2 separate regions of the Homo sapiens genome follow, and region 2 is linked to region 1. Evidence: fine-mapped expression QTL. Tissue or cell type: testis. Region 1 holds a variant in brackets; the other region holds the start of a gene. All regions are shown on one strand. Distances are from middle to middle.

The links. PIP is the estimated chance that this variant, and not a neighbour inherited with it, causes the effect.
Region 2: LVRN starts here. The variant in region 1 is fine-mapped to the expression of LVRN in testis (GTEx, PIP above 0.99).

What each region holds. Positions count from the first base shown.
Region 1 is chr5:115,985,478-115,988,239 of GRCh38, reverse strand. It overlaps LVRN (laeverin), which reads right to left. Exons shown (of 20, transcript NM_173800.5): 4 at 301-427. Among named protein-coding and RNA genes, the nearest start is that of LVRN, 24 kb to the right of the region's middle. The variant C/T (reference allele first, on the strand shown) is at 1,115.
Region 2 is chr5:115,961,259-115,963,866 of GRCh38, reverse strand. It overlaps LVRN (laeverin), which reads right to left and starts at 1,392. Exons shown (of 20, transcript NM_173800.5): 1 at 555-1,392. The coding sequence starts at 1,249. RefSeq lists an enhancer at 911-1,170.

The DNA.
Region 1 (2,762 bases):
TGAACTCAAAAGAGAAAGTAGGGTCTAGAGGACGGGAGGCTGCCATTGAGTAGCCAGGAGAGACCTAAAAAGTCTGAGAGCTCTTCAGCAGCTGCTGAGCACATGGCTCTGTACAGAGAAAGAGCAGGTGAGCCTCTGTGTGTTTCAGAAGGTATAAGGCATAGGTCAGGAGGCTAACTCCAAACCAGCAGCTAAATGGTGATGGTGAATCCTTATGGGTTTGTCTGTGTATCTTGAGGCCTCAACCAAGGGCCCAAATAACAGGAAACCAAATGCACTGAAAGGAAAAGATTACCTCACCTGTTTTTGGAAGAGAGTAACTGATATTAAACAAATCCTCCAGAAAAGAGAAGATGGGACCTGTGATGTTCAAAGCAAAGTCTGCACTTCCATTTGCAATTGCATCTTTCCGGGCCCAGATGCGTATCTAAATCAAAACAGTTAAGCAGTGATTAGGAAAACCAGTAGTGATTTTGGAAAGAGGTAGTCTGCTTGCTCCAATTCCCTGCTGCTGAACCAAAGTCTTACCTTTCCAGAAGAAGCTGCATAATAAAATGCTTGCATGCTTACATGTCCTGAGAAAACCCCTGAAGGCTGTTCACTAAGTTATGAACAGTGATTCCCCCGAAAGTGTGTTATTTCAATCTTTGACAATAGCATGTACAATCTGGAATCATAAAACAACCCCTGGAATGGGTTGTACCAGCATCTACCCCTACAGTAAGTGTAGATTCTATAGGCATTTTGTGCACTTTGGGCCCTTGCTTCCCATTTCAGGATATATTACTAATGATCCAAAACAGAATTGCACTGTGAGTGGGGGTTATATAGTATGGTACATATTAAGCATATTTAAATCATGCACATTTAAAATTGTTTAGCAGTTAGAACATTAATAGTCCTACTTTACTTACAAAATTTGAAATAAGGTTAATTCTCCTAATTTAAAAAAGTTCATCAAATGTCTCATAATTTTAAAACTGTCAAAGCAAGTGAATTATAATTCTCTTGTTTTTCTATTGCCAAATGACACTTCCACTTTAGCAAGTAAAAGGAAATCTCTGCCATGTTTTGTCCGTTTTGTGTGACCACACTATTGTTTGTGTAATTGGAG[C/T]TTATTTGTGTGATTTTGTGAGTAATATCCTATTGTTTTAACATTAATTATTACTATAAATTGAAAGTATTGTAAACTCTAAAAAAAAAAAGTAAGTAATTTTTAATAGAATTGCCAGCATTAATGTTAAAGAACATGCATAAAACTTAAAGATCTTGGAATGAAAGTTACCAAGTGAGATAATTAAAATATTTGTCCTGTTGTGAATGCCGTTAATTTAAGAAAGAACGCTCTGCAAAACATTAGAGAAAATGCTAAGGAAATGAAAGAATCACAGTATTTACAGATTTGTGCCCTCCAAGAACATATTCGTCTTACTTTGCTTTTATTTCTGCTTAAAAGTATTTCTAGAATTATGTAAATTCTGAACTACTTACATGTTTCTTATGTTTATTCTCATGCCACACATTAACCACACTTTCCATTTCATGAAATCTTTATCTGTTACTTAATGAGAAATTTGTAAATGGGCTGGACTCTATTCCAAGTGTACATTTTTGTTCCTCTGCAGAGTATATAATGGACCCATTAACTTTGTAAAGCTGAGCTGTAGCCAAATGTTCACATTCCACTGATAGACTCATGCCAAACTTCAGTGTGCTGGCTAAGAACATGACTTTCTTAGGTATGCTCCATTTCCTTGTTGTTTCTATGGCAGCTGGCATCCTTTTCGGGGTGATCTTTCACAGATAAATCGATATCATCCCGCTACAAGAATGGTTGACTGTGCAGCAGCACTGACCACAGCAAGGCACTTGAGATAATGGATGCCAAGGAATCACCTTTGGTCTGTCATTACCTATGGGAGCCCATTCCTCCTTACCAAGCTCAAAGCACGTGCTTCCAAATCATGCCTGAGCAGATTTAAAAATATAAGCCATGCACGTTTAACTTGGCCAGTGTTATATTTGTAGATGACAAGGTTCTACTAGTAATTATTCAATAGGAAAATCAGACTGGAGCCAACAGCCTAGGAAGATAACAAGCTGCCATTTGCATCTAAAACGGTATTATTAATTCATTAAGTTAGGAGGAGCTTTGAGAATCGCTCAGCCAACACAATATTACTAATTCATCACTAGGTTAGGAGTTGTAAAGGAGGAGTAGCTTTGAGTAATTCTCCCCTGATGAGGGGCTTGGCTCACCCACAGCTTCCTTTTCTCCACATGTCAATGGTGCAAGCCTGGAAGACCTTGGGCCCCTTGGGCCCAGGAGAGTATGTTAGCGAGCTATAGGGCCTGATTTTTCTCAGCTTGATGAAGTCTACGTGTCTAGAAAGAACTGGGCCTAAGGCCCGCTATAATAGGGAGTGAACAAGCATATAAAGCACTGCCAGCACGACCTCCATATTTTCCTAAAGGATTATTATAAAGGGGGTAATTGGGTGAAAACCAGCTATTTCAGGACAGAGTGCTGACTTTACACAACTCAGAAAAAGTGTTGCATGCTCCAGAACTGAAGAACATGGCAGTTCAGCTTCTGGATAGGTATGGGGACAAGAGTGACTTTATTTTAAATGCTAATCCACTATGTAACTTCTGACTAACCTTGAGTCTGAGAGTGCCTCTAAATGTCTAGTTAATGTGTTAACTCATTATGTAGAAACACCTATTCATTGTAAGTTTTCTTCAAAACCACCCTTGTTGTT
Region 2 (2,608 bases), 24 kb after region 1:
CGACCTAAAAAGGGGCAGCAATAGAAACAAACGGGATGAGCAGATACAGGGTTGAAAACTGGCCAGAGGAAGGACCGCGGTCTCCGCCGTCTCTTTATTCGGAGCAAGGTTATAGGAAAAGGGAGAAAGGAGGCGCTCGCACTCTGTCTGGCTTTGAAAGAAAACGTCGCGGTGTGTGATGTTCCCCTTCCTGTGTCCAAGTGTTCTCATTGTTCAATTCCTACCTATGGGTGAGAACATGCGCTGTTTGGTTTTTTGTCCTTGCGATAGTTTGCATTGGGAGATATACCTAATGGGTATATTTCTTAATGGGTGCAGCACACCAATATGGCACACGTATACATATGTAACAAACCTGCACGTTGTGCACATGTACCCTAGAACTTAAAGTATAATAAAATAAATAAATAAAAAGAAAAAAGAAAACGTCGCAAGGGGATTCTTTGGAAAGGGCAGCAGACGCGCACCTGGACACGGTAGTCAGCTGGACCCGCAGCCTGCACCGGGACGCAGGGGCGGGGGCCGAGAGGGGCCCCGGGCTGTACAGCCCTTACCTGCGCTCGCCCTGGTCGGTGTAGACGTTGAGGAAGAGTCCCTCCCTGAGGTCTTCCTTCACCAGGCCCGAGAAGCTAAGCTGCAGCTCGTAGCTGCTACCAGGTTTCAGGGGCTCACTGAGCTCCAGCACCATGTATTCCGTGTCCAGCGCGAACCACACGTCGTCCACGGGCACGCGGCCCACTGTGGCGTTCCCAGTGCCCGGGGAAAGGGGTCCCCGCACCTCGGCGCGCTCGCAGTCCTGGAAGAGGCTATGCAGCAGCAGTCGAGAGGTGGCCACCGTGCAGCGCACCGTGATGTTCACGCGGCCAGTGAAGGGCAAAGACCCGGCCGGAAGCTCGTCGGGCCTCAGCTGCGGCCACAGCTCCAGATCGTAGTGCAGCGGCACGAGCCAGGGCGGCAGGCGTAGCTGGTCCCAGGGCCCCGGGGGTCGCCAGTTGCTCGGGGTGGTCGTCACCGCTAGCTCGCGTGCACTGCTGGGTTTCGGGGTTGGCGTCGGCTTCTGCCTGAGGGGAGGGGAAGACTCGGCTTCCAAGTCCCTGAGTCCAGGCAGCTCCGACGGTGGGACGCGCTCGCAGTGGCCGTACAAGGCGGCGAGTACGGCCAGCGCCAGCAGGAGGGCGGCTACCAGCCCAGCCAGCAGCAGGGCCACTGCGCGGCTCACATAGAAGCCTGAGCTGGAAGGGGGCCCCATGGCAGGGACCGGGTTCAGGCGCGAGGCTGGAGCTCAGAGACTGTGGCAGCTGTCAAAACCCCGGCCAGGGTGTTCAGTGCTGCGACCCCTGCCCCTCCTCTCTTGTATCGTGCCTCTTCCTCCTGGAAGAGCCTGGACGGACTGGAGCTCAGCAGACAGCGGTTGGGACCATGGCTTCCCCCTCCCAGCTAATCAGACACAGGTCCCAGCCTACCCACCCCCGCCCCCGGCCAGCGCCAGGGAAGAGGCGGACCTGGCTCACCCAGACGCGTACCCCTTTGGGTTCGAAGAGACAGACCCCACGGAAGATGCCTCCAGGGTTGGCGCGGGGAGGGGGTGGTCAAGCCAAACGAATCCGGACACCTTAAACGTGGATATTTGGATGAGGGGTGTGCCCCGATACGGTTTCAGGTGTTGTCGGAAAGGGGACAGGTACCAAGCACCTCTATCTCCAAGCCAGCGATGAGCTACCAGCAACACACCTGCTCCACCGCCAGCTGGGGCTTCGTGTGCTAGGGGGTGGTAAGGGCTTGAGGACCAGGATATTTGGGAATGCGTTCAGAAATGACCCTGCAGGGCGTCGGCCGCGCCGTCAGAACAAATTTCTGGAGCCAAATGTGTGGCGCTAACTTCGCTTCCTAAATAAGCCCAGGAGGCATGCGGCCCAGGCAGCGAAGGCGAAGATGGAAACAACGTCCGGAGGCCCGGAACTTTTCCAGAGCTCAGGAAGCCAGGCTGGAGGAAGAGGCGACAAAGTGCTAGGGAGCCTGGCGTCTGCGTCTCCCGGGTGAAATGGGGTTGTGGGGCAGAGCAGGGTTAGGACCGCGTTACCACAAGAAGGGGCCTGGCGGGATGGTTTTTCTTAGCTCTGCAACTGCCTGGGGCCGGGGTTTCCCTTCCTGAAGCCGGGGGAGAGGGGACACCTGCTTTCAGAACCGACTCGAATCAAGCAAAGAGAATAAAACAATTCGGCGGCCAGTGTTTCCACCCAGAAATTCCTGGGCTGGAACTGGTTTTCCCGGCGGTACCCTAGTCGCTGAGGCTTTCACATGTTTGACATGGCATCTGTTTGCTATTTAGCTGGTGCCCCTGAGCGAATTCTTGGCGTCTGCGCTGGATCTGGAGTCTGCATTCACGCACGCTGGTGAATTGGGAATGAGATTGCAAGCATCAGGAGGCACTGGGGACGGAAGGGAAGGTAGTTAGATCCCACTGCAGGCTGAAGATTTTAAACTATCCCGTCTTGAGACTCGCGCGCGTGTGTGTGTGTGTGTGTGTGTGTGTGTGTGTGTGTTACAGCGAAAATATAATAATTTTTCCATAGCAGCTATAAAACGGTGTTCGCTTTACTACTGCTTT